Linked DNA regions of Homo sapiens. The protein of the gene in region 2 purifies or fractionates together with the protein of the main gene of each other region. This does not show direct contact. Each region holds a gene or a part of one and is shown on either strand. Other genes may lie near its edges. The genes, in order: CTBP1, EHMT1 and CBX1.

Region 1 (10,987 bases), on a different chromosome or scaffold from region 2:
GTGAGTGTAGAGCACATGGAAGCTTGTGCTTCCTATTTTCCTGTAAATCTAAGACTGCTCTAAAACAAAAACTGATTTTAAAGTAAATGGGGGTGAGGTGAGGGGCAGCAGCCCCCAGGTTCTCTGGAGGCATCAAGTCCCGGGGGGCTGCACGGTGGCGGCCCGATGACCCCAGAGCCTCCTGGCCACATGTCAACGCCCTGTCTCTGGATGCACATCACCATCTGCTTGCCGGATCCTCCCTCCTGTTGGCCACGCCTGCCCACTCCGCCCCGATCCACGTGTGTGCTGGGCATCGGTCCATTCTGGTCTGGAGAGGGACCGGGTTGCCCCGGCACACTGGGGGTCACCATGGGCTGGGACCTGCCCCGATCCAGACAGCCACAGTGGGTCTCTGGGCACTGGGGGGGGGGTGTTCCAGGAAGTCCCAGGGGGCACCAAGATGCGCCAGGACCAAGCAGCTACCCCTGTTCCTTCCCCAGCCTCAGCACCTGGTCCTCATCCCCGCCTGCTCAGACCCAGGCTCGGCAGCTACCAACCCTCCACGTCCCTCCACTGGCCAGCCCTGCTGGGCCAACCGGTCCGCTCCCCTCCCTCACGACCTCCACCAGGACAGTGTCCCAAAAGCTCCTCCTCACCAACCCCATCTTCTTCCCCCTCCCCACAGCAGCCCCTAAAGCCGCTGCCCAGGAAGGGCTCCCCGACCACCAGAAGGGCACCCTAAGGCTGGGTGGTCTCAGCGGCCCTCACCCTGCCCTGTCCCCATAAGCCCTGATTACTCCGGGCTCGAGTGGCCCTCTCGTGACAAAGCTGCCCTGCCGTGAGTCCCCGGCAGCCATCTGGGCATTGGTGAGATGCCCCCTCTGGCTGTCCAGGCCTGGAGGCCCAAAGACTAGGGCCTGGCGGTGCTGCCCAGCCAGGGGCTGACATGAACGAAGGCTGTGCACAGCCTGACCCGGAGCCTTCCAGTCCTGAGATACAGCCACCTGCCGCCCAGAGAAAACTGAGGCCCTGCCCTGCAATGGCAGAGAAGGCAGGCCCCCAAGAGGGAGCCGCACAGCAGCATGGAGCCACTGGGCTGAGAGCACGGGGCCAAGAGAACCTCCCCCAGACAGACAAGGCCCGTCACCCACAGGTTGAAACAGCTCCTCCGACGACAGCACCCCAGACAGACACTGCCCAAGTCATCCACGAGCCGATACGGCACCTTGGACGGCAGCATCCCTGTGAGCCAGGGAGCCACCGCACTCCACGGGGCCTGCAGGGCCGCATCACAGCTCAGAGGACACAGCGCAGGGGCTGTGATCAAAGGCATGGATTTGCCAGCAAGATTCCTCTCCAGGACATCCGTGGAGCCGCACGTTTCCCTGTTTGTTCAGCGAGCACATGCACACAACCTGTGAGCTCCAGGAACCCCCAGAACGCCACCTTCCTGGCTCCTACCACATGTGGGGTATCAGGGCTACACCTTCCTCCCCTTCCCAACACAGTCTACACACGACACCACTGGAGAGACAGCCTCGGATGCCTCTGAGGCTCCTGCCAGCCACGCAGACAGGGCAGCCCAGGAGCCCCCACACCACAGACGGGCGGCAGGTCAGGGTGGCACAGGAGGGCACGGTGACACGGGCGGCAGGGAAGAGTGGCACGGGAGGGCAGGGTGACACGGGCGGCATAGCAGAGTGGCATGGACGGGCAGGGTGACACGGGCGGCAGGGCAGGGTGGCACGGGTGGGCAGGGTGGCACGGGCGGGCAGGATGGCACAAGCAGGTCAGGGTGGCACGTGTGGGTAGGGTAGCACGGGTAGGCAGGGTGGCTTGGGCCACACCAGGCCTGGAGAGTTAACGGCGGTGCCAGGGGAGGGTGCAGAAGGGGCCTGGTCCCAACACCGCCCACACCTCTCTCAGGGCCATAGCCCCAACGCCTCCCCAACCAAACCAACTGGGCTTCCCTCAGGGCCATCCTCACTCTCCTTCAACACCCGTGAGAACTGGTACCACCTGGGGCCGCCCAGAGAGACAACTCAAGGTTAACGTTTGGCTCGGCAAAGAGCCACCAAGAAATTTCTGGCTTCACAGGGAAAAAAACGAACATTTCCTTGTGGGAGATACCACATGGAATGTGTGGCCGGAGGGGCTTCTGGAAACGATGGTCAGTGACGCAGGTGGCACCTTGTGGGTTACCACGACCCAGTGCGGGGGAGAGCAGTGGGCTCCGGCCACTGCAGCTGACAATGGAGGACCCGGGGGTCCAGACACTCCCGGCACAGAGCTCTTACCCACAACTACCAACATCCAGCGACCACCAGAGGACCCTGGCGCTCCACCCGGCGCTCCGACCAGCGTTCCCTTGGGCGATGCAGTTCAACCACAGAACCCGTATGACACTGCCTGCTGCCTCTACCACCTCCTGGCCACCCCTGGGCCCTGGGCCAGGCCTGCACCGTCAGCACCACCTGGATGGAGCCCTCTCCAGCCCCCAGTGGAGTGGGAAACATTAAGTCCTTCTACAAGGAGAGTCAACCGGGGTAAACACCTCACAGGGCACACACCTTTGACTTGGGCACTGCATGGGGAGCACCAGGGCACAGCCGGGCACAAAGTGCTGCCTGAAGAGTTCTCAGCAACACTAGTGGTGCCAGCCACACGCCTCTTGGCTCAGTGACACCACCGTCAGCTCAGACCAGGTCACATTCTGGGGGTACTGGCCGCAGGAAGTTGAGAGGGCAAGTGACAGTCAGAGGAGAAAAACCAGAAAAACTGCCAGGCTGGTGGGGAACCAGGTGTGGCTTGACGGCCACCTCTAAGCCCCGAGGGAAGAGACTGGGCCTCTCGAGCCTGGGGCCCGTTTCCTGGAGAGCATGACTACTTCTGTCCAGGGTTCCTCCAGAAAAAATTTATTAACAGAATGATGGTTAACAGTTGCTGTCTGCTTACACTACAAATGTCCAAAGAGTGGGGGGCTCCCAGCCCTTGGGGGAGGCAGACAGGACGAGCCAGCACTTCCAATCCCACCAGGACATGGCAGGGGGCCGGCTCTGCGCCAAGCCCACAGGACTGGACCAAGGCTCGTCCCACTCATCAGAGGGACAGGACCAGCCCACAGTCCTGTGCACCCCGGGCCAAGCCTCTCCTCCCCCACTGCCACGTTCTCAGGTTAATGACAAGCGAGTAAAAGGGAAGATCCTACTCGCTGACATCCCCAACCACACGCCCACCTCTCAGAACTAACAGCTGCCCTGGTCAAGGCTGACAGGAAGAAGTGCATGTTGGGGACATGGCAGACACCCCAAAAATGGCCGGGCAGGCGGACGAGGCACCCCCAGGAGTGACCAGATGCCACCCCCAGTGCGTGTCCCTCCCAGAGCTCTGCAGAGGACGCCTGTATGGAAGCAGGTGCTCAAAGATGGGCAACAGAATCACAGAGAGCAAAAGGCGTCTGCGGAGCCGACAGCCCCAACCAGGAGCCAAACCCAGACCCCAGAGGGAGGTGGCCAGGCCCGGGCAGGCAGGGGAGACCTGGGAGGCCGGGTGCTGAGGCCCAGGGCAGAGCCACGCCCTACAAAGTTCCAGGACACAGAAAGGGGGACCCCCAAACCGCAGCTGTCATCCTCAGCTGCAACGGCAAATAGTTACCCCACGGTTCTCCCCCAACCCTGCCCCAAGCTGCAGACGGGTACACAGACGCGCAAAGGCCACGCGCTAGGAGCTCAGCGAGGACGGCCGCGGTGCGGGCCCAGCCGCCAGCGCCGTTTTCTTCCCGAGGGACGTGTGCTCCCTGCCGCGCTCCTACAGAAACGGTGGAGAGGCCGGGGAGGGGGGGGGGGCTCGGGCTCAACGGAACACCCTGCGCACCCGCCGCCTCGGCCCTAGCTCCAGGCCCTCTTGCCCCAACTCTCAGGGTTTCACCTCCCCACTCAGGGCACCGGGAAGGGCGCGACCGCCTTCCCTTTTCCCCACTGGAAGGGAATTCTGTCCCGGCAATCACGGAGACGACAGCAAAAGGGATCTGGCCCAGGCCGGGCTTCCAGACACCGGCGCCCTTGGAGGCCGCCAGAGAACGCTCCAGTCTCGGCCCGGGGCTCAGGCGCACGGACTCTGCCTTTGCAGCCGGGTCGAGGGAAAGAGAGGCTCCGCGCAGCGGCTCGGGCCGGCCCAGGACGCGGGCGCTGCAAGATGGCGATGGTGGCAAGCCCGGCGCCCGCCCGTGCTCCCTGCTTCCGCGGCCGCAGCCCGCGAGGAAGGCGCCCCGGGACCTGGGCGGGCCCAGGCAAGGGCAGGTGGGGGCGCTGGGCCGGTCCGGGACCTCGCGGAGTTCGCGGGAACGGAGACCCCGGGCCCTCCCGCGTCACCGCCGGGGGCTGCGCTTTGGGCCCGGTCTGAGGGCAGCGGCCTCCTCCACGGTCATACCCGGCACCCGCGCCCCGTCCCCTTCCCCCACAGCGCGCGGCCACGGTCGCCGGCGGCCTCCCCGCGGGAGGCGCGCTCCCGCGAGTGGCCCGGGAGCGCGCGCCCCAGGACACCCCGAGCTGCGCACGGCTCCCGCCCCATCCCGGCCCCGCAGGCCCAGCCACGGGGTCATGACCGGGGACGGGGTAGCGGCCGGGGATCGGGACCCGGGGTGCCGTCCCGGGTCCGACGGGGCTGGGGTCGGTGGAGCTGGGGGTCCGGCGGGGCAGCCCAGAGGCCCACAGGCCCTTTTGTGTCACCTGCACGGGCCGCGGGCGGGGAGAGCAGACTGCGGCGCTCGCGCACACGCAGCGGCCCGCGCATGCGCAAGACCCTTCCCGCGGTCCCGCCCCCGACCGCGGCCACGCGCGGACGCCGGCGCGCACGCGCACTCGCACACAAAGCCGGCGGCCCGCGGGCGCGCGCTCGGTCCGCCCCCGCGCCCCCCGCCCGCGCGGCACCCGCCCCGCCCCGCCCCCGCCCGCGGCCGGAAACGCGCGCGCGCGCGGCCTTACCAAGCGGCAGGCCCTTGTTGAGCAAGTGCGAGCTGCCCATCGAGAGGCGCGAGCGGCCGCGGGCCCCGACCACTCCGGCGCGCTGCGCCGCCGCGAGCCCGGCGCGTGGGGCGGCCTCGGCGCCGTCCGCTGCTCCGCCCGCCCGCCTGCGCCTGGCCGCCGCCGTGCCGAGTCTCCGCCGCGCCGCTGAGCCGCGCTCCGACGACCGCGCGGGCGGGGACACGGCGGCGCGCGCGGGCGGGGCCTCGCGGTTGGTCTCCTGGTTCCCAGCGCGGGCGGCGCACGGACTCACGCGGGCGGCTCAGGGCCCGCCCGGCCGGGACGCGGCTGCGGGGCGGGGCGGGGCGGGAGCCTGGCGGGAAGCTCGCGGGGCTGCAGCCCGGCGGAGGCCCCGGGCCTGGTGTTCCGCACGTTCTAAACCGCCTGTCCCCGAGGAAGTCGGGCAGGGTCGGGCCGGACTCAGCGCCGCTGGCGGGAGCGCCGTCCGCCCCGAGGACCCTGCGGGCCCGGAAGCCGAGACAGGGCCGCCCACGTCAGCGCCTGGCGCGGGCCCGAACGTAAATGGCGCTCCTCCGCGCCGCAGCCGCAGCCGCCCCGCTCCCTTCCCGCTCCGCCAGCTGCCGCCCTCCCGCGCTCGCTTCTCGCCCCGCGGCCTGGCCCGTGCGCCTCCGAGGCTGGCCAGGGGCACCGAGGCCGCGGGCCCCCCATCGCCCCCACCCGAGCCCTGATTTACCGTCCGAGAGCCGGCGGCACATGGGACCCCGAGAGGAGAAGCGCGCCTGCCCCAGTGCGTCCCCAGGCGGGGGAGCCCCGACTCCTGGAGGGACCGCGTCCTGCCCGGCCCGGGAAGTTCAGGGCTGGAGAACCCCTTCCCCGACCCCATTTCTCTTTTAACAAGAGTAGGGTTTGTAGCTAACCAACGTCCTGACAGCTCAGCTCTGCTTTCCCTTTAAGCATTAATATCAAAGCCCTGCCTGCTACCGGTGAAGCCCCGACCCGGGAGGGCCCGAAAGTCCCTTCAGGGAGAGGCCGCACTGGGCCTGCTCACCCAGGGGCTGCCCCTGCAGACTCTCCCGAGGGGCCCAGGGATATTCCTCGCGCCGCGAGTGGACGCTTCCATCCACCCCATGGGGAGGGCCTCTGCGCGTGGCTACTCTGAGCCCTCTGGAATGCCGAGATAGTTGCATAATTTCAGAAACCACGGCATGGAGACGGAATGATGCAGACTCCTATCCGCGAGATACCTGCTGTAATTTCGCTGTGGTTCGTGAGGACGCGTCCTGGGCTGCCCTGAGAAGCCTACGTCTCCCCTTCGAGGCCCGGGAAGACCTCCAACCCCGCTGACAATGCTGGGCCCTCAGCCAGACCTGCCCTGCGTGCCACGTTCTGTTCTAAGATCGGGCTGCCGAGCTGTGGCCTGGAGGAAACCTGGCAGGTGTCACCAGAGCTTTGGGGAGGGTGAGGCCCTGTCGGGGAAGCCCAGTGGGAGTCATGAAGGAGGGAACACGTGTGGAGCCCTTGTAGGGGGAGGGGCAGCCCTGCAGAGATCTAAGAAAAAATTCCAGAAAAATGAGCAGCAACCTCCAAGGCCAGGCATCGGTGCAGGGGACAAGGGGTCGTAGCTGGAGGGGCCTAGGTGAGGCTGCCGGGAAGGGACGATGTGGTTGGTGGAGTGCACAGGCAGGGACCTCACTGGACTTTCCTGTCTGCTCAGCATGGACAGGCAGCCCAGGAGAAGGCAGCACGTGGCCGGGTGCAGGGACGTACCACCCCCACTTCCCCAGGGGAGCTGGGGTCAGACGAGTCCCAGGCACTCCATCCTCTGCAGCAAGTCAGGTTGTGATTTACTAGGGGGTGGTGAATATAATGGAGAGACTTCTGGGGAGGAATTCCTGGCTCCCGCGTGGACTTGCAGAGCTCAACAGGCAGCCACGTGGCTGAGTGTCCAGCAAACATCACATAAGGCTTTGGGTCCTGCAGGTGGGGCTGCCATGAGCAGCAAGCTCAGTCCAGAAGAACAGTTCCTCTCCAGGATCCACTTCCTGCGCACTTTTATGTGCAGTGTAGCTGGAGCAGAGCTCCCCGGAATTCCACAGGCAACTGAGAACGGAGAGGGATGCAGGCCAGCCAGGGATCCAGCGTCTTCCCCATCGTCACTCTCCATGGCCTCCGTCTACACACAGTGTTCGTCTGCACAGCTTGTCAGCGCGTTATCATGACTTCTATTTGGCACCGGCCCGTCTGTCCACTGTCCTGGCTTGTTCCAAGCGCTGCCTTCTCCAACTGGGGTCCTGGCTGCAGAGCTGTCTGCTCCCCACGTTGGGCAACTCCAGCCAAGATTCCTACACCCAAATGTGACCGTGTTGCTCACGAAGAAGGCTCAGCTTTGCGTGTGCCCAGCCGTGTGCACAGCTCGTCCCAACTCCTGCGGGTGGCACCTGCCTCTCCCACCTCCAGTCTTTCCCCTGTGATGAGCAGATGACCACCGCCCTCCAGGGTCAGCGTTTGGCTGTTTGTGTGCCTGCCCACCCGCCTCCCTGTGCCTGGGCCTGCCCTGTGCCTGCACACAGGAGTGGCTCATGGCGTTTGCCCTACACGGATGGGCTGTCCTGGGAGCTACTGGACAGTCACCTTGGTGGGAATGCCAGAGGCATGGGCATTAGGTCCCCCCGGCCAGCCTCCGTTGCCACATGGGCTATTTTTGTCCATCGCGTGGGACAACCTAGTATTGGGGGAAAACTCAGTCCACTCTAAAGAAGCATCGGCGTTTTGGATGGACGAATGCTGCTTCATGCGACTCCATGTCAATGGACTATTTTATTCAACTCGGGTATTTATGAGTGTCTCCTCTGTGCCAGCCACGTGTGAAAGAAGAACTCCAAGTTACTGGACACCAGGACAAACCAGGTAGATCACTGCATCCGGTTCCTCCTCTTTCTGCCGACTCTCCCGGGCAACCGTTCTGATTCCTGGCATGGAGTTGGGGGCGAGCTCATCAGTACCCAGAGCGCCTGGTGTGCAGCCAAAGGCCCCCATTTTATTAGTCGGTGTGTTCAGTATCACGCTCAAGACAAGGGCCAACCTATTACTTCACACACCTCAAATACAAAAAGTGCCTGGGAACGTCGATGAGGTATTAAAGGAAACCACTGGTCTTGTCAGTCATGTACACACAGAAAAAAAAACCAGTCATTTTTATTTTTATTTTTTGAGACAGAGTTTCGCTCTTGTTGCCCAGGCTGGAGTGCAATGGTGCAATTTCAGCTCACTGCAATCTCTGCCACCCGGATTCAAGCAATTCTCCTGTCTCAGCCTCCCGAGTAGCTGGAATTGCAGACACCCATCACCACGCCCAGCTAATTTTATGTATTTTTAGTAGAGATGGGGTTTCACCATGTTGGTCAGGCTGGTCTTGAACTCCTGACCTCAGGTGATCCACCCACGTCAGGCTCCCAAAGTGCTGAGATTACAGGCATGAACCACTGTGCCCAGCCGAAAACAACCAAGAATTTTTTAACAATAAAATGACCAGCAAGTAAACTTGAAACAAAAATGGACAAATATCTAAAATATTTTTAAATGTATGTATTTTAATTGGCAAATAATACTTGTATATATTGTTTACAACTTGTTTTAAAGTATGAATACATTGTGGAATGGCTAAATCAAGTTAATTAACATGCATTAACTCACATACTTTTTGTTTTTTGGTGTGGTGAGGACACTTAACATCTACTCTCTTAGCAATTTTCCAGTCACCATGTCCTACTATAGATCCCTAGAACATATTCCTCCAATGTAACTGAAATGTATCCCTTGACCAACATCACTGCCCGGCCCCAGCCCCAGGTAAACACCATTCTACCCTCTGCTTCTGTGAGTTCAGCTTTTCTAGATTTCACCTGTGAGTGAGATTGTGCAGCATTTGTCTTTCTGTGCCTGGGTTTTTTCACATAATGCCCTTCTGGTTCATCTATATTGTCATATATGGTAGCATTGTCTTCCTTTGTAAGGCTGACTGGTATACCATTGCGTATATACACCACATTGTTTACCTAAAATATTTTTTAATACAATCGCTGAAAACTGCCACATAACTTGTATAACTGCTGTAAGGCTTGGTTTTCAGCCATAAGATGGGAAGAGAAGTAACATCTACCTTGCAGGATGACTGCAAGCTGTAAAATGCCACAAAGCGCAGGGGAGCCCAGAACCGCCGCAGCAGGACAGGTCCTCTGGAAGCAGACAGACCTGCCTTGTTACTTTAGCCATCCAGAGTCCAGTTTAGCCAGTGATGAAATGAGTACAAAAGAACACCTTTCTTGTAGGATTGCAAAATGATGTCTTCATCCATTCTGTGCTGCTATAGCAGACTCCTGCACACTGGGTAACTGACAGCTTACAGAAGCTTGTTGGCTTATGGTTCTGGAGGCTGGGAAGTCCAACCTCAAGGGGCTGCATCTGGTGAGGGCTTTCTTGTTGCATCATCACATCGCAGAATAGCAGAAGGGCAAGGAGAGAGAGAGAAAAGAGTGCTGAACCCACCCTTTGATAAGAAGCCCACTCCCATGATAATAGCACCAGCCCATTCAGGAGGGCAAAGCCCTCGTGGCTGCATCGCCTCTCAAAGGTTCCACCTCTCAAGATCATCACAATGACAATCAAACTTCATGAATTTTGGAGGGGACAATTATTCAAACCAGAACAGAGGGGGATGGCAAATGTTCTGAAAACAAGCCTAGAAATTGATCTTAGAAATGGTGCAAAAGTAGATTTCCCCTTCTGTCTTTACCTGTGATGGTCTAACCCCAAAAGCCTCCCAGAACAGAACTTGTGAGCACAAGATAGAAACAACAAACTTGATGCAGAGCTGAGCTCACAAGGAGGTCAGGGATGTGACAGGAACCAGAGACAAACAGAAGGCTGAAAACCAGGTCTTAAAGTGTGAGAGCCAAAGGGCAGCAGCCCAGGAGAGTGTTCGTCTGGAGCCCCGGGGTTTAAGTCTCCACACTCACATGGGAAAGGAGACGAGGCCTCCCTGGATCCACGTGAATCAGGAACTGGAACAAGGGCACTCAAAGGGCTACGCCATCAGGAGAGATGTGAATGAGTGTGCCCACAGGAACAGGAAGACAACAGGATGGTTCTGTGTTTGCCTGCCTGTTGTGGTTCTGTGAGACAGAAACAGTTTTGATGACAATTGATAATCAGGACTCAGAGCCTTGTTAGACTTCAGGTATTGAATTTTTTTTTGAGACAGGGTCTAGCTGTGTTGCCCAGGCTGGTCTTGAACTCCTGGGCCCAAGTGATCCTCCTACCTTGGCCTCCCAAAGTGCTGGGATTACAGGCATGAGCTACCGTGCCCAGCCTAGGTATCGAATTTTCACAGGTTTCACAGTCCAGGCCCTACCACCCCTGCAGCAAATAACTTGATATAAAACCTGGGCCCAGGCTAGTAATACCCTTGAAGCCCATGACAGAAGCAGGCACAGTGATAGAAGCAAAATCACGTAGACATTATCAATCTAGCCCCCTCCAATTCCTACCCATAAAGCCCACTGAAGATGAATTTACAATCATAAAGTACAAAACATGCCAAGAAAGAACCACATGAGGGAAGTCAGCAGATGTGTGAACAGCAGGAACGGACTCCGCCACCAAAGGCCTTCAAAAGGTGAATCAAGCAAAAAAGAGAACATTAATTAAACATGTTTAACATGGGTAAGAATTACAGGAATAAAAGAAGTAAATGAACAAGAATACGATTGCAAGGGAGTGGTAGAAGAATAGGCAGTTTTGAAGAACTAAATGGAATATCTAGAATGAAAAACCATGCTTGCTAAAATTAACTCAATGAGTGAGTTTAAAAAGCAATTTAGACCCAGCTGAGAGCTGAATTTGTGGTATATGCAGAAATTACTTCTGATGCGAGGCAGAGCATGATGACAGAATGAGGAGATCCCAAACATCTATGAGAGTTCCATTCTGAATGATTAGAAGAATGAGGAAGCAACAGTATTTAA
Region 2 (7,796 bases):
CACCCAAGTCCACTCACTGAGTGCCTCAGCAGGCCGACCCCCACCCAGTGAGCTCAGAGGGGCCTCCCCTCCAGCCCCACAAGCCTGTTTTCTCTCACAGACTACAGCCTGGGCCAGGACAAGGGTGCAGGCTGCTCTCTGCCCAAGTGGGCTAAGAACCTGCTAGGAGCTTTGCCCACGTGAGGGGTTCTGGCTGCTGCAGGACCAGAGGGCCAACCTGCATGGGTTTTCCATTTTTATTTATCCAAAGAGGAGAAAGAGGGAGGGGAGGGGGAGGGGGAGGGGGAGGCCTCCTGCCCTGCCCCGGCCCACCTGGTCCCTGTGAGACTCACCTGCCTGTTCCCCGCACCTGCCGCAGGTCCCCTCAGCCCCCTTCCCAGGCCTGCACTCCCCGGAGCACGTGCAGCTGCTGCCCCACAGCGCAAAGGCCCTGTAAGGTCTCTTCCTCCCAAGCCGAGTCTGGTTTAGGGACAAGGCGGTCACGGCAGAGCTGTCCAGGACCATGTGAGGTGGGCTCTGTGTTGGGTGCTCATTTTAAACGGCTGGAACTTTCTGTGACAGGGCCCAGTTGTGGGGCCACCCTGGTGGGCCTTCGTGACACCCAAAAAGTTTGCTGTTGGCTTAATTCAACCAATACCTGTTTGTACACCCAGCAGCTGACCCAGGGCACGGAGCAGAACAGGTGGACACTCAAGCCACAAAAATTAATTAGAGTCATCTGCCAGCTACGGGCTGTCCCAGGGGAAGGGGTTGTACCAGCTGCTCCTCTGGCAGGGCTGCTCCCCCTGCAGGGCTGGTGGAGCCGGCAGAGCCTGAGGTTCAAGCTCCAGTGGGCCCTCAGTCACCTCCTGCCACTGCCTCTGGGATGAGGTGACCTGCGACCCCTACACCCTCCTGAGCCCGGGCTTGGCGGGAACCCAGCCCACCCCACACAGCCCCTCCTCACGGACGCAGACGTGAAAGGCCGTAGGCTGTCTGGGCTCCTGGAGGAATGCGGCCTCCCCTGTGGCCCTGTGCAGAGGGGTCACAGGTGGGCCATATCCATCCTGGGTCCGCCTGCCCAGTCCTTCATGCAGTTGCGCAATGTCTGGTGACAGGCACTCGTACCTCAGGCTGGACGACCGCGCACCCTGCTGGGGCCGTCTATTCACAAAGTGCAGGGCAGTTATGACTGTGCTGGAAAAGCATCAAAAACACCTGCGTGAATTCTGTGTATTAAACCGTGGAGTGTCTGAGCGTGTTACTGAGGTTACACGAAAAGCCCTCCTGTGGTGAGTGAGGCCAGTCAGCATGGAGAACATAGCAGGCTGGAGGCTTTGGGTCTAGGGGTCCCCGTAGAGGAGTGGGGGTCATGGCTGGCAGGAAGTAGGACGGGCTCTGGCTCTCCCTTGTCCGGCCTCGCTGTTCAAGTGCAGCTCTGCCTCTGGTTGTGGGACTCACCTGATGTGCCCTGTCGGCTTCCAGAATGACGCCCAGAGCTGGGCACCTGGCGCTAGACACAGACATGCAAACACACACACACACACACACACACCAGTGTGCCCGCATTCGCACCACGTGCACGATGCATTCGTGGACACACACAGACTCATTCGACACGTGCGCAAATGCACAGGCTCCCCTAACCTCTGCCTGGAACGTCCCCTCTTCGGGGACAGATCTGGGGTGAAAAGGAAGCTGTACTTCCTTGGACAGGGGACAGAGAGCTGGGCCGGGTCCAGGGGGACCTGCAAGTTCTGCAGAGACCCTGAAATATGGTGTCATAATAAAAACCCCATTTAAAGTACTTCTTTTTTTTTATTGATTTCATTGGAAACAGAACAAGAAATGGTCAGAGCCAAAAGACTGCTCTTAAAACTGTCAAAAACATTTTAACAGAAAAAAATAAACATGACTGCATTATGAATGTTTTTAGAAGAGTTGCACAAAAAAAACCCCACTGTTACTGCACTAATTACAGTCTTTAAAAAGGTATATGCCAAAAAAAAGTATATGACCTGCCAGGCCACCACACAAAAGGTGATGGCAAATTTATTCACGCTACAAGACTAACATCTTTAAAAAAGTTTTTCCTGCATTTTATTCTAAAATCACTTTGTTCTCTTTATACAGTTGATAGTTTATTTCACGTGGTGAGTAGAAACCACACCAGAATCAGCACCGTTGTCTGTGTTTTGTTTTTTATTTTGTGTTTGTCCTAATGTTCAGTAATGGTAGAAAATAAATCAGTTTATTCATCATAGCATGTGGCTTAAAAAATCAACAGAAGGTGCCAGCGTCAACGGAACCGGCGGGGGCTGCACCCACCAAGCCACTTCCTCGAAAAGAAACGTCAGTTAGAGGTTTGATATATAGGACTAGATATAGGATTCCTTTAAAAAGCAAACCCACATTTTCTCCAAAGTTAGTGGTGGGGTCGGTCTCCTGACCTCTCCGAGCCTGACAGGAGACTGTGCCCTCCGTGCGGCCCCTGGGACTCGGCCCCAGCCACGCAGGCCGTGGGCAGGGCGAACGGAGCAGCTCGCGCTAACGGTGGCTTCGGCGGCGCCACACAGAAGAGTCTGGGCCGGACAGGAGAACAGAGCAACCCCGTGGTGCAGCGGGGACCTCGGAGGTCAGAGGAAGAAACGAGAAACTTCGCAACGACAAATCAGCATCAGAAACTCAGAAGGTGATGCCAGTGCGGACTCCCAGCGTCTCTGGCGCGCGGACCAAAGTGTGCGCTCCAGCCTGGGCACTGGGCCCGCGGTGAGGCCGCAGGTCTGGGAAGGTGGCTGGGAGGCATCCACACCCGCCCGCAGGGGCTGCAGCCTCACCTCCGACCCCTCCAGGAAGCCGGCGGCGCAGCCCCGAAGGACCCTTTCGGTTGCGTGCGGAATCTCTCCTCCTCGTCCTCTAATCGGCGACGCGGCGGTCCCTGGCTCCCGAGCGCCCCGCTGGCCGGCGGCGTCTCATAGGGGGTCGGCGGCAGCCGCGGAGCTGGTGTCGGGCAAGCCGTCCTCCTGGGCCTCCTGGGCCGCGCTGGCCTGACGCTGGGCCAGGGCCGCGCTCGAGTGCCGGCACTTGGGGGAGCCGCAGCGGCAGCTGAAGAGCTTGCCTTTGATGTCCCAGAAGCGCTCTCCATAGTCAAACCTGGGGAGGGAACAGAACCAAGGCTCCAAGTCGAATCCCACCGGCACCTCCCACAAGCCAGATAAATTAAGGCAAGGCCAAAGCTTCCTCACCCCGATCTGCCGTGCCGCATCCCAGGTCGCAGTTTTTAGAACTACAGGAAAACCACTAGCATAAACCCGAGACAAGCCCAGGAAAGCAATGCGAGCCCCGTTCCTAAAACCGTCCCGCCGGCAGCGGAGATGGCCAGGGGCCGGGGCGGTGCGTACCCGAGCTGCTCGCCGGCCTCGATCAGGCGGGTGCTGAAGAAGGCGATCCGGGGGAACCGCAGGTCCTGGTGGGCCATGAACACGCGCACGGGCACCAGGTTGGGCTCGCAGTGGTGGTTGATGAACCGGCTGACGTTCCCGTAGAACCGCGCGTCGATGCAGTAAACCTCCCCGTCCTGCAGGGCGAGAAGCCGGCACGGGCTGCAGTTAGCAAGGCCCCGACACGCCGGCCTCGCCGGGTACGGCCATGCATGGCAGTCCCGGAGCCTGCAGTTGGGCGCAGGCCCGCCATGCAGGAGGGGCCTTCTCCAGTGACCTGTGGCGGCGGTGCGGAGCCTCCGCCAGCCTTCTCCTCGCTGTGTGGCCACCCACCCCGCACCCTGCCGTCCTCGCTGGGCCTCCGTCTGTGGTGGGGTGGGGGTGGTGCGGGCCGTTCCCTTGACGGCGTCCCCATGGGGCTTCCAGCGCGGTGGAATGTGGACAGCGCCATCCCACCCGAGGACCCATGGGGCTGTCTGGCACCAATAGGAGAAAGGAGGCCGGGGCTGCAAGAGCCCCGTGAGGCAGTGGCAGGGGCTGAGGGGGTCGGGAGGGATGGAGCTGGCATCCGGGACACACTGTCTTGGTGACGAGGAGGCGGAGCAGTCCCCAGAGGGTCTGGGAAGACTCAGTGGCGAATGGCACCAGGGAGGACCGTCAGGCGGAGGCTGCCCACAGAAAACGACTTCTGCTGCAGCCCTTCCGGGTGCTGATGTGACTGTGGAACACGAGGCCGAAGAGACTGAGGCGTCCTCCTCACCCTGGTGCCTTGGAGAGGAGCCCAGGATTCCGGGTGGCCACATGGCCCTGGGCCCTGGCCCCTGGCACTGGCCTGTGATGATGGATTCTGAATTGACCATAGAGAGGGGGACGAGGTGGGTGGGCCTGACCTAACCACGCAACCCCTTTAAAAGCAATTCTCTCTGGAGACCCAGGGCTTGGAGCTGCTGGGGCCTGGATGGAGGAGCTGCGTGGGAGTAAGGTAGGTGGTCCCGGCCGGCAGCTAGCAAGGAACCTAGACGCTGCCCACGCAACCACAGGGACCTGGGCTCAGCAGCACCCTGCCTGTGCAGCCCGAGGCCCGGCACGCCCAACCCCTGCTGCGCACACTGGGCCGAGTGGGTGGCCGCCATGGCGAGCTGCGGGTGGGTGGCGTGGTTTGTTACCCAGCGACGGGAAGAGGCAACACCACAGACGACAGCCAGGCAGACGGGGAAGGAGGCACCTGGGGCTTTCCAGGACCGAGTTCCGAGAGGGCGGGGCCTGCCGGCAGAGACACCTGGTCCACAACCTGCCCCAGCATGAACATTAACCAGAGAGCCAGGGACGCTCAGAGGTCAAGAGGTTAAAACCCAAACCAACAAGCGGGTAAAGGCGTGGACGAGAGCAGCTCTCCGTCAACCTTCACGGCGCGGGCAGTGACAAGACAGTAAACCAGGCGAGCACGGCCGCAGGACAGGACCAGCCACAGCCCCCAAAGCCAAAGGCGCGGGAAGCTGCCTCCTGGTTTACCCCAAAGAAACAGAGTTCAGAGTGGCTCACCTGGCGTGGACTTTGGCCTCTGCTTCGGGGTCTGATGGACTAAGAATCTATAGGCGACCCCTCCTCGTGCAGAATGCAATTCCGGAACTAGCAACGGCGCACACACGAAGGTCTTGATAAGCAGCAAAATGGAGAGTGAGGGGCTTCCGACTGGAGGGGCCAGGCCCAGCTTTCACCAGGGGCAGCTCGTCTGGCAGAGCACACAGCGCTGCTCCGAGCTTCTAAGATGGGTGGGGTGTCAAAGTCTGTGACACAAATCTCTGCCCGACCAGAACCAGATAAAGACAACAGTCCAGAGAAGGACGGCTGGAGTAAGGCAGATAGGCAACGTGGGAGGCGGGGCCTGCGGAGAGAGCCCAGCCAATCCTAGGACTGGAGAGAAGGCACAGGGGCCACATGGGTGGGTGGGGGGAGGGCCTGCGGAGGGAGCCCAGCCAATCCTAGGACTGGAGCGAGGTGCAGAGGCCGCGTGGGAGGCGGGGCCTGAGGGAGACCAGCCAATCCTAGGATGGGAGCAAAGTGCAGTGGCCACGTGGGAGGCGGGGCCTGTGGAGGGAGCCCAGCCAATTCTAGGACGGGAGCGAGGTGCAGAGGCCACGTGGAAGGCGGGGCCTGTGGAGGGAGCCCAGCCAATTCTAGGACGGGAGCGAGGTGCAGAGGCCACGTGGGAAGCGGGGCCTGAGGAGGGAGCCCAGCCAATCCTAGGACTGGAATGAAGGCACACAGGCCATGTAGGAGGTGGGGCCTGTGGAGGGAGCCTGGCCAATCCTAGGACTGGAGGGAAGGCACAGGGGCCACGTGGGGTTGGGGGGTTCTGCGGAGGGAGCCCAGCCAATCCTAGGACTGGGGCGAAGTGCAGCGGCCACGTAGGAGGCGGAGCCTGTGGAGGGAGCCCAGCCAATCCTAGGACTGGGGCGAAGTGCAGCGGCCACGTAGGAGGCGGAGCCTGTGGAGGGAGCCCAGCCAATCCTAGGACTGGGGCGAAGTGCAGCAGCCACGTAGGAGGCGGAGCCTGTGGAGGGAGCCCAGCCAATCCTAGGACTGAGGCGAAAGCACAGGGACCACTAGAGAGGCCGGGCCTGCAGAAGGGGCCCAGCCAATCGCACTAGGGAAACAAGGCCCACGCAGAAGAGAAACCAGAGTCCTCCCCACATGTTAACAGGAACAACTCAAGGGACCTGACGCTTGAAACACTGAGGAAACGAACACGTCCGAAAGAACACTCAACTGAGTCCAGCCTTGAGATGAACCAGACACTGGGCCAACAGACACGTATTTTCAAGGCAGCTCCTAAGGCTGTCCTCAATGAAGAACAAAGAAAGATTTCAAGGCATGAAAATATCAGAGAAATGAGAAGTCTCAGCGGAGAAACAGAAAAAGAATCCAACGGAAATTCTACATCGAAATTCACTGGCTGCTGAAGCCATCACTGGGTGGATGAACAGAATCTCAGAGATTTGCCTAATGACAGGTAAAGTCAAACAAATTGACTTGTACGCAACATTATTTGAGATAAATAGCAAGGGCTGAAATCAACCTGAATGCCCCAAAAAGAAGGAGAAAGATTTCCATGTACGGACAATATGATGACTCTCCCCAAATCCTGTCGGGAGAAAGGTAAGGGCTCGTGCACTATCTACACTCTACCACTTTTTGTGTAAGAAAAGAGAAGGAATAAGAAATCTACTTGAGTATTTTTTCTCGATTTCTGCTGATGGTTACTGCAGGTGCTACAGTTGGAATGTGTGTGCCCCCCGACCAGACTCACAGGCTGAGACCCCAAGGTTAGGGTGAGGCTTTGGGAAAGCGATTAGGTCATGGGAGTGGAGGGAATTGTGCCCTCATAAAAGGGACCCCAGAGAACTGCTGCACCCCCTCCACCACGTGGGGACACAGTGAGAAGGCACTGGCTACGAACCAGGAAACCCTCCCCAGACACCAGATCTACTAACACCTTCATCTTGGGACTTCCAGCCCCCAGAGCAGTGAGAAATACATTCCTGTTATTTGTAAGCCTCACGGTTTACAGTGTTTTGCTATCACAGCTCGAATGGACTAAGACAGCAGGAAACAGAATACAGAGAACATGGAGAGAAGCAAGGCTTTTCTGGGTGTGAACTTCCCAAGCATGCAAAAATTTTACACAATCAAAAAACAAAAAATTAAATTGTAACATTTAAAATGAACTAAAATTAATGTAACTGCCTATCAAGCCAGTGACACAATCACACAAGCAACATTTCTGGTGCCGCGAAGCACAAGACTGGGCCCAGCTTCCATGGGACATGTTCTAAGGAGTGAGACGCTGCAAAGAAGCGCAGATGCCATCCGGGAGCTGGACTGGTGCTTACTGTTATCGGTAATATCTGGAGTGCTATTTTGAAACTAAAGATTTTAGAAACCAAAATTTTTATTGTAAGAGATGCAAATATAAAATCAAAGAAGTTGGATAAAAACTCTACACTGTTAAATTTGAATTGGAAATATTAACATGAACACATTTTTAAAAATCTATTTACTTCATAACTCTGTCCTCTGAAAAGTGAGTCAAGAGCCCATGGCACCCTGACAGCAGTGGGCACCCCAGAGTCTCATTTCAGTGTCTAAAAATCTTTCTCTTCCAAAAGCACAAGGACATCCTGGAGAAATGGCTGATTCCAAGTGTGGGGCAAGGAACATAAGGGAGGCCTGGGTGTCACATGGTACCGAAGAGCAGTGTCACCAAAGGAGACGGGCTCGCCTGCATGGGCTCCCCATGGCCAAAGATGGGGCAGTTTGACCATTAAATAAGAATGGCTATAACTGATCAAACACACATGTAAAAATGTAAACAAA
Region 3 (10,173 bases), on a different chromosome or scaffold from region 2:
TGAGATTGTGCCACTGCACTCCAGCCTGGGTGACAGCGAGACTCTGTCTCAAAAGAAAAAACAAAAAACAAAGAAATATTCTCTGAATACTTTCTCAAGCTGACCTAAGATTTGTTGTGCCTACTTATAACAGTTTGAATTTGTGGCCTCAACAATCAAAAAAGTTGATCCTTAAACTACTGATCTAGTAATATGCCAATTGGCTTTTGAAAATAACAAAATTGTGACTACCTAGCTTCAACTCAGTTTTCACTGCATGCCTATCAGTATTACTGTTTTCTCTGGGGGAGAATGATACAGTTTTTACAACAGCTCAGGAATGCCACAAATGACAAGTCAGTCAGTTCCAAAGGTTAAGACCAAAGCTGACTAGCAGTCCATTTGGGATACAAACCAAGGCTGTAGTTTCATTTCAGTGCATCTGATGGTGCAGAACAGAACCAGAACACCTCCACTTAAACTCCCTTAATTAGCTACCGACTGCTGTGCTACTGTCAACCACCACCAGGGCACACACTCAGACCTCTGTGCGGGAAGGCCTGTCTGTGACCCAGACCTTCAGTAAGGCTCCCCAGCTCCACTTATGTCTCCTGAGAACTTTCCTGAGGAGGCTTTCTGAAAAAATTATCTACACATCAGTTTATTTTAAACAAATGCTTTGCACGAGTGAGTAGTACTCAACTGTTACACTGATTTGTTCTCAGTGGAAATCCTATGTCTGTTACAAAAATGACAAGTTGGCCGGATGTGGTGGCTCATTCCTGTAATCCCGCACTTTGGAAGGCCGAGGCGGGCGGATCATGCGGTCAGAAGATCAAGACCATCTTGGCCAACATGGTGAAACCCTGTCTCCACTAAAATACAAAAAATTAGCCGGGTGTGGTGGTGCACGCCTGTAGTCCCAGCTACTCAGGAGGATGAGGCAGGGGAATCGCTGAACCCAGGAGGCGGAGGTTACAGTGAGCTGAGATCGCACCACTGCACTCCAGCCTGGCAACAGAGCAAGACTAAAAAAAAAAAAATAAAAAAAAATAAAGGCAAGTCCAAGGCCAGGCACAGTGGCTCATGCCTGTAATCCCAGCACTTTGGCAGGCCGAGGCAGGTGGATCACCTGAGGTTAGGAGTTCGAGACCAGCCTGGCCAACATGGCAAAACCCCATCTCTACTAAAAAAATTTAAAAATTAGCCAAGTGTGGTGGCACGCGCCTGTAGTCCCAGCTACTCTGGAGGCTGAGGCAGGAGAATCGCTTGAACCTGGGAGGCAGAGGTTGTAGTGAGCCGAGATCACACCACTGTACTCCAGCCTGGGTGACAGCAAGACTCCATCTCAAAAAAAAAAAAAAAAAATCATAGGCAGAAAATGACGTTTTAAATCAGTGCGCAAACACAGGGCCAAATTCCTGGAAAATTTTGGAGAAGTAGATTTTAGCCAAGGTCATATAATCTATTACATACCATAGGCAGGATCTAAACCTAACTTAAAAACCCATGTTTCCAAATATACCATAGTTTGGAAGTGCTATCAGGTCAGAGTGCTCAATAAACTTTTGGCAGTACTGAAGACAGCATGATGCGACCATCTTTACAACCTCTGCAGCAACTGATAAATGCCCAGTAAGTATTTACTAAATTAACATGGTGTGACCACTTAAAGATTCAGGCCAGGCACTAGATTTTCAAGCCTACAGTGTTCAAGAAATAAAACCATTCAAGTGAGGAAGCCATTTCCAACAGGCTGAACCTATAAGGCAAGAAGGGTTCCTGGTAAGACTTAAGACAGAAATCAGGGATTATAAATCTATAGTTTTATTAAGACAAAAACTGACAATGTAGTATGAAGTTTACATTTAAACAAAGTTTACACAGAAATCTAACACATGCCTAAAAGAATTTTACAACGTAGCTCTAGATGCAAGTCTAGACAATATCAAGAACTGATGGTTCTCATGACTCAAGACAGAGCATTTTGGGTATGTTACTTATTAGGATTTCTTAAAAAATTGTTTTGTGTGTGTATGTGTGTGTTTTAAAGTGAACCACTGCCCAATATGAAAGTTTAATCTTCTCCTGAGACCAAGGCTTTTGAAATCACTAAACTCTTGGATCAATTCAGTGAAACTTGTGCTGTCAGTGACTGAACCCTGCCAACAATGGTTTCAGTGTTCAAAGCTCAAAGTAAACGGCTCCAAGAGTTTTCCCCACTAAGAGCATGGGCCCTTGTCTTTCCCTACTGTCTTACCTCCTCTACCACCCTCTTCCTCTTCCTAACACCTCAGCCAGTGGCTTGGATGAACAAGCTGATATTTATAACTTCGTTACTGGAAAAGAAAGGGTCTTCTAATTTCGGGAATTAGCACCTCTAAGGCAGAATGATCTGCTTGTACTGTATACTCTCCAATAAAAGACCTTCCCTCCTCGTCAATTTCCATCTCCAAAATGGCAACTTTGGTAACTTATGAACAGGCTTAGTCCTTTGTGGGAACAGCAATAAGTTTAGGCAGGGAACACCTTGGCTTATAGGTTTCAGACTTTCACAGCTTTTAAACAGTCTCTCACAGTCCTTATTTATGGTGCCAATGACATTTTTTTAAAGGTAAAATATTCTGGACATAGAAGCAAATCATTAGTTGTCTGTTCTTTTCCATTGCTTCACCATTTCCCCTATCAGGCCCCAAATGTTAATCAAAATGATGCTACCCATCTCCCTTTCTCCCCTCCCCATCCCTCCCTCCCCCAAATAATACACCAGTAATAGCCAAAAACTACACACATGCTACGCTGTAAAAATGCAGAGTTAACACTATTGGGAAGAAGGCTGTGGGTTGTGGAGATGCTCTTTGAAGATCTACAGTATTTTTTTGCTCTCCCACACACCCAATTCTGCAAGTTTTGTCCTTCATAGAAGGCCCTTTGCTTTTCGCAGCAAAGTGCAGAAAAGGTTGCCTTGAAACACTTATCCCCTTTCCCCTCCACTGGGATGGGTGTGCAAACTATACAGCTTGAAACGGCTTTAAAGCACTTGGGCTGCTGCAGGGCACAGAAACTATACTGGCTCTTCAAAGGACATCTTCTCAAGCCACCTCTATGGTGTCAAGACAAGTAGAACTCCTTCCCTTCCCACTTGAAACCCACAGTCAGATGTGACAGGGGCTGGTACTCAGGAGCGTTAGTTCTTGTCATCTTTTTTGTCATCATCCTCCGAGGGGTAGGAATGCCACGTCAGCCTTTCCTCATAGAAGGATATGACAACCTGTGGGCACTTGACATTGGCTTCCTTGGCAGGGACCAGGTCAGCCTCATCAGAGTTTTTCCTGCAGAATAAAGCAAAGAGAGACTTTGAGACCAGGTGCTGGTGGTCTATCCTAAGTTGGATAACCCAGGGGACAGTGCTTTAAAAATGGTAATTTTAGAAAAATAGGCTAGGGAACAATGAAAACGTGGCCCAAGCAGCATTTACTGGCAATTGTATGTCAAGTGACATCCTCAGAGTTAACTCTCCTGTTGAAAATTCCCTCTGGGGATTCGTGTATGTCAAAAGCCAGGTCAATGGACTTAACCAATCACATCTGAACATCTGGGCAAGGCCCCAAAAAGCATGACTCTCTAGATTCTCTGAGGGAAGAGAGGATACCTAGATTCTCTGAGGGAAGAGAAGTTACCACACTCCTCCAAAAGCCATATCCCAGCTGATAAGAACCCATGGAGAAATCTTGGCTTTGTAATAGGATTTTTTTTTTTTTTTTTTTGAGACAGAATCTCACTCTGTTGCCCAGCCTGGAGTGCAGTGGCATGATCTCGGATCACCACAACCTCCACCTCCTGGGTTCAAGCGATTTTCCTGCCTCAGCCTCCCCTAATAGCTGGAATTATAGGTGTGCGCCACCACACCCAGCTAATTTTTGTATTTTTAGTAGAGATGGGGTTTTGCCATCTCTACTAAAGATGTTGGCCAGGCTCATCTTGAACTCCTGACATCAGGTGATCCACCTGCCTCAGCCTCCCAAAGTGTTGGGATTACAGGCATGAGCCACCTCGCCCGGCCCGTAATAGGATTAAATACCACATCTGGCATTGGCCAGAGCAAATGAAGATGGACACTTTTTGCATAATCGTAATTACACTGACACTTCCAAATGCTATCCTCGCATAACTTCCAGGTGCTTTGAAATGATGTTTCAACATCGGGAGTAGAAAATGAGGGAGCTGTAGTTTTCTGAATTTTAAAATGTTTTCAAGTGGCTGGCCGCAGTGGCTCACACCTGTAATCCCAGCACTTTGGGAAGCCGAGGCAGGTGGATCACGAGGTCAGATCGAGACCATCCTGGCTAACACGGTGAAACCCTGTCTCTACTAAAAATACAAAAATTAGCCTGGTGTGGTGGCAGGCACCTGTAGTCCCAGCTACTTGGGAGGCTGAGGCAGGAGAATGGCGTGAAACTGGGAGGCAGAGCTTGCAGTGAGCCGAGATCATGCCACTGCACTCCAGCCTGGGCGACAGAGTGAGACTCTGTCTCAAAAAAAAAAAGTTTTCAAAATTTGAAAATCATACACATTATAAGGGAATTAGGAGTAAACTCTTAGGCAGGGAGCAGTAGCTCACGCCTATAATCCCAGCACTTTGGGAGGCCAAGGTGGGCAGGCCCAGGAGTTCAAGACCAGCCTGGTCAACATGGCAAAACCGTGTTGCTACTAAAAATACAAAAATTAGCCAGGCATGGTGGCGTGCGCCTGTAATCCCAACTATTCGGGAGGCTGAGGCACAAGAATCGCTTGAACCTGGGAGGTGGAGGTTGTAGTGAACAGAGATCGCCTCACTGCACTTCAGCCTGGGTGACAGAGCGAGACTCTGTCTCATTTAAAAAAAAAACAAACTCTTATCTTCAGGTTATTAGGAATGTCCTAGACAGAAGCAGTAGCGTAAAGCAAGCAGGAGACACCTGATGACATCTCTGACAAAGCACCACCCCAAATCTCTAGAACCTTAATAACAGGAAATCAGAGCCACATAGTCCCATAGAGCAGAAGAGTAAGCTGATAATGTATGTTTTTGAACAATGGACCCAAGAGAATGGGAGGGAAATGGGAATCTGAAGCATGCTGCCATTTGCTGACAGCTGAACAACACCCTCTGAGTTAAATTTAGTCATTTCACTCCCCAGAAATATTTACTACTTTTAGAAATATACAAAAATCTCTATTCTCCAGTAAAATAACTTTTTAAAATGTACTTTGTCTTATAATCAAATCCAGTTTTAACCTGTAGACAGCAGTGAGTCGGCCAGGTGCAGTGGCTCACGCCTGTAATCCTAGCACCTTGGGAGGCTGAGGTGGGTGGATCACCTGAGGTCAGGAGTTTGAGACCAGCCTGGCCAACATGGTGAAACCCCATCTCTATGAAAAATACAAAAATCAGCCAGGCGTGGTAGCACATGCCTGTAATCCCAGCTACTTGAGAGGCTGAGGCAGAAGAATCATTGAACCCGGAGGGGCGGAGGTTGCAGTGAGCTGAGATCGTGCCACTGCACTCCAGCCTGGGCGAAAGAGTGAGACTGTCTCAAAAAAAAAAAAAAAAAAAAAGACAGTAGTGAGTCAACCAAAGGAGTACAATCTTAAGCAATATGGAGATACTACTGTAACTCACACTGGTCACATGCAGAAAAAGTATATTCTAGCTAAACTGAGTAACTCACAGTATAACTTCTCCCACCCAATAAGCAGCATCTTAAAAATGAACTTTTCTCTTATAGGTTAACAATAAATCAGCTAAAAGAGGGGCAGCTCCAGTAACTGCCTAGGGAATACATAGAAGAGAATAGGTTAGTTAGTTGTGACTCTGGCTTTCAGTGGTGCTAAAGTTAGGCCCCTCCAGCCATACTGTAAAAGAGGATAATTAGTACAGACACGAGTTTCAGAGTAAGTTCTGGACTGACAAAAGGACAAAGCTCCATAGACTGTGTGTGTGTGTGTGTGTTTTAAAGGACAAAGTTTCTAGAATGCTGCCTTCATTGGCAATGGCTTAGAATTATTCCTTCCAAATTTTAAATACAATCATTGAGATCCACTTTGTGGGGAGAATGAGCAAGAAATAGGAAGAATGGCCTTCTTTTGACAGAGTAGGAAAATTACAGAGATTGTTGGGATAACTATCTTCATTAGGCTGTTTCATGGAGTATTACTATCACTGGTATTTATACTCATAATGGAAAAAAGCAGGCTTGCTCTATGCTTGATAGCAGTTAAGGAGCCTTGCTGACCCCTGCTGGCTGATCCTGTAATTGTAGAATCTGCACAAATTGAAAGGGATCCAACAATTAAGGACAAAAGGAAGAACTACAGATTCTTTCCTAACCCTGAGAATTTAGCAGAATTTCTGATTCTGGGGCCAGCCTCATCTTTATTAAGGAGGTGGTAGAAGGAGAGGGTGGTCCAATCACATTTCATTTTCTCCCCCTTTATTTACAGAAGTGAAATGTAATTCCTTCCCACACTCTTTCCACTCTAGATTGTCTCCCACCTCCTAAAAATATGGGCAAAGACCCAAGATTCCTAAGGGCTCCTACCTGTAACTCATGAGTCCAGGGTGGCAGTCAGGCCGAGGGTCACTATCGAAGGACTATGCCATCTTAACAATTTCACACTTGGGTGATTGGAATTTCGAAGGTCCAGCTCTTTTCCTCTGGCATGAAACCAATGGGAGAAGAAAAAAAACAACCACACAGAGCCACTGGCCGACTCACCATTTCATCAGGAACATGAGCTCTCCACTGGAGTCTGTAGCTCCAATAATCCGCTCCGGCTCCAAACCTCGAGCAAAGCCTCGTGGCTTTTCTGACTGTAAAAACAAGATGGGTAGAACAATTTTATCTATATGGGACTATTATCCAGACTGGAACCATTCCTGTGTCTCTGATTAATGTAATCACAAACTCTTTTTTTTTTTTTTTGAGACGGAATCTCACTCTGTCGCCCAGGCTGGAGTGCAGTGGTGCGATCTCGGCTCACTGCAGCCTCTGCCTCCCAGGTTCAAGTGATTCTCCTGCCTCAGCCTCCCAAGTAGCTGGGACCACAGGCACATGCCACCACGTCAGCTAATTTTTTGTATTTTTAGTAGAGACCCAGTTTCTCCGTGTTAGTCAGGATGGTCTTGATCTCCTGACCTTGTGATCCGCCCGCCTCGGCCTCCCAAGGGGCTGGGATTACAGGTGTGAGCCACCGTGCCCGGCCCAATCACAAACTCTTTTGCCAATATTTCACCAATACCTTGGCTCAAGTAAGAGAGCTGTTAGAATCCTTTGGAGTGATTATTCATCAATGTCTGAAGCGCATGAGATTTTCCCTATGTGAAAAGGGACATACAGCCCAAGCAAAATCAATGTTTACAACTATCTCTTCACTCTCAAAAAACAACTTACTTTAAGATACTGATTAAGTCAAAATAGCCACCTCACACCTTTAATGATTAAATATTGAAAACTATTTTTTACAAGAATGAATTCACTTGCCCTTATATCTGTCCCCAGCAAGTTTTCCATTTACTGCTCCTGTACCATGGATAAAAAGTAAGAGATCATGTGGCTTCATGACAGTACACTCTCACTTTGTAGGCATTAGCCTACCTAAGATTTCAGGACTAAGAAGAGACAGCTGCTAATATCAGGGAAGAAGCAGAACAAAACTACTTTGACAGTAGTTTGAATTGTGGGCTAGTAAAAATTCTTACTTCTATTCTTACCTCTTCTTTCTTCTTCTTTGGTTTGCTCTCCTCTCCCTTATCTTCAGAATCAGAATCAGCTTTGCGCTTGCCTCCCTCTGATTTATCTGTCTCATGTGCTGTTTTCTGTGACTGCAGAAACTCAGCAATGAGGTCGGGGCAATCCAGGTTCTCTTCTGGCTCCCATGTGTTGTCCTCACTGAAACCAGAGGGCACAGCAAGTCACACTTTCACTCAAATAAGTATACTCATACTAAGGATAATCGTAAGAGGACAAGACCTCAGATGTCTATGGAAAAGCTGAAATTCTTGGGGAATGGGGAAGCTTTTTAGTATAAATAGAAAGCTAAGAAACTGGCTTCCTTCAAAGGCAAATGACTTTTATTTGTCAATTTAAATTGGTCTGTAGCCACACACAAAACTGTTTCTCAGCAATCACTATGGGCTGGGTACAGTGGCTCATGCTTGTAGTCCCAACACTTTGGGAGGCCCAGGTGGGAGGACTGCTTGAGGCCAGGAGTTAAGAGACAAACCTGGGCAACTAAGCGAGACATGGTGGTGCATGCCTGTGGTACCAGCTACTTAGAAGGCTGAGGTGGGAGGATACCTTGAGCCTGGGAGGTTGAGGCTGCAGCGAGCTATGACTGCACCACTGTACTCCAGCCTGGGTGACAGAGCGAGACCTCGTCTCAAAAGAAATAATTTTTAAAAAGAAGTCATTCTGCTTTGTATTATAAGCAGTAGGCCATATTCCTAATTAAACAATAAGCCATGAAGGTGGGGACTGAGTCACACTGTATCCATCATAGCACTGGAGGTCTCATACATCTCTAGACTCCTGATAAACACGTGGTGGCTACATTTACCTGTGTCAGTGAAACTTACTCTGAGAATCCCTTCCACTTTAGGAGGTACTCCACTTTGCCCTTTACCACTCGACGGTCGAGAACTTTTTCCACCACATATTCCTCTTCCTCCTCTTCTAGCACCTCCTCCACTTTCTTCTTGTTTTGTTTTTTCCCCATAGTGCCCGCCAGCTTTCTGGTGTAAAGGGTGACGCTGCTAAAATGATAAATGAAATAAAAAGGGCATTAGGGAGCACTCTTATTGGTTAGATAATATCTGGATGGTAAGAAAACCAGGGACATGACAGGTGATAATATTGTATGCTGCTTATAGTAAGTGTTAGGCTTCTTCTCACACTCGATACAAAATAGTTTTCTGATATGTCCAGCCAGAAAGCTCATAAAACAGCCCCAATTAATCTTACAGCAAACTTTTTTTTTTTTTTTGAGAGACGGAGTCTTGCTCTGTTGCCCAGGCTGGAGTGCAAAGTGGCGCAATCTCGGCTTACTGCAACCTCCGCCTCCTGGGTTCAAGCGATTCTCCTGCCTCAGCTTCCCAAGCAGCTGGGACTACAGGCGTGTGCCACCAAGCCCAGCTAATTTTTGTTGTTTTTTTTTTTGTTTTTTTTGTTTTTTTTTTTTTAGTAGAGACGGGATTTCACTATGTGTTGGCCAGGTTGGTCTCGAACTCCTGACCTCAGGTGATCCACCTGCCTCGGCCTCCCAAAGTGTTGGAATTACAGGCATGAGCCACCACGCCTGGCCTTCACAGCAAACTTCTTTATTCTTGTGTATCCATTTAAAACTTTTATACCCATTCTTGGTAATTTTAAAAGGCTCCCAATACTCCTTTTACCATAAAGCATGGTAGCTAGGGCCAGGCGTGCAGGCTCACATCTGCAATCCCAGCATTTTGGAAGGCCCAAGTGGGAGAATTCCTGAAGCCCAGTAGTGTGTGACCAGCCTAGGCAACACAGCAAGACTCCATCTTCACAAAAAAACCGTTGTAAAAGAGCACGGTAGCTAAAATATTGCATTAAATTGAAAGGCTGGGTGCAGTGGCTCACACCTATAATTCTAGCACTTTGGGAGGCCGAGGCGGGCAGATCACCTGAGGTCAGGGGTTCAAGACCATCCTGGCCAACATGGCGAGACCCTGTCCCTACTAAAAATACAAAAATTAGCCAGTCGTGAGCCAAGATCGCACGACTGTACTCCAGCCTGGGCAACAGAGTGAGACACTGTCTCAAAAAAAAAAGAAAAGCAGTCCTCCTAAAAATGTGCACATATCAATAAAACTTACATATTACTCTCTGACTCATACTTTCTCCTATTCCAAGTTTTCCTTTTCATCAAAGTACTGGATTTGAATTTGTTTTTTTTTTTTGAGATGGAGTCTTGCTCTGCCCCCAGGCTGGAGTGCAGTGGTGCAATCTCAGCTCACTGCAAGCTCCGCCTCCTGGGTTCACACCATTTTCCTGCCTCAGCCTCCTGAGTAGCTGTGACTACCGGCGCCCGCCACCACGCCCAGCTAATTTTTTGTATTTTTAGTAGAGACGGGGTTTCACCATGTTAGCCAGGATGGTCTCGATCTCCTGACCTCATGATCCGCCTGCC

What was found.
Region 1: the proteins of EHMT1 (region 2) and CTBP1 purify together in Homo sapiens (affinity purification with mass spectrometry; 5 studies listed by BioGRID and IntAct, with this or other methods). This does not show direct contact.
Region 3: the proteins of EHMT1 (region 2) and CBX1 purify together in Homo sapiens (affinity purification with mass spectrometry; 3 studies listed by BioGRID and IntAct, with this or other methods). This does not show direct contact.

What each region holds. Positions count from the first base shown.
Region 1 is NC_000004.12:1,243,952-1,254,938, forward strand, and holds the start of CTBP1 (C-terminal-binding protein 1), read right to left. Parts: upstream 5,180-10,987; 5' UTR 5,005-5,179; coding exon of another isoform or gene 4,965-5,004; intron 4,778-4,964; exon of another isoform or gene 4,257-4,777; intron 1-4,256. UniProt on the Homo sapiens protein: Corepressor targeting diverse transcription regulators such as GLIS2 or BCL6. Has dehydrogenase activity. Involved in controlling the equilibrium between tubular and stacked structures in the Golgi complex.
Region 2 is NC_000009.12:137,830,109-137,837,904, reverse strand, and holds the end of EHMT1 (histone-lysine N-methyltransferase EHMT1), read right to left. Parts: intron 3,557-7,796; coding exon 3,381-3,556; intron 3,133-3,380; coding exon 2,952-3,132; 3' UTR 1,778-2,951; downstream 1-1,777. UniProt on the Homo sapiens protein: Histone methyltransferase that specifically mono- and dimethylates 'Lys-9' of histone H3 (H3K9me1 and H3K9me2, respectively) in euchromatin.
Region 3 is NC_000017.11:48,068,269-48,078,441, forward strand, and holds the end of CBX1 (chromobox protein homolog 1), read right to left. Parts: intron 8,774-10,173; 5' UTR 8,737-8,773; coding exon 8,597-8,736; intron 7,911-8,596; coding exon 7,733-7,910; intron 6,833-7,732; coding exon 6,738-6,832; intron 3,312-6,737; coding exon 3,167-3,311; 3' UTR 1,791-3,166; downstream 1-1,790. UniProt on the Homo sapiens protein: Component of heterochromatin. Recognizes and binds histone H3 tails methylated at 'Lys-9', leading to epigenetic repression. Interaction with lamin B receptor (LBR) can contribute to the association of the heterochromatin with the inner nuclear membrane.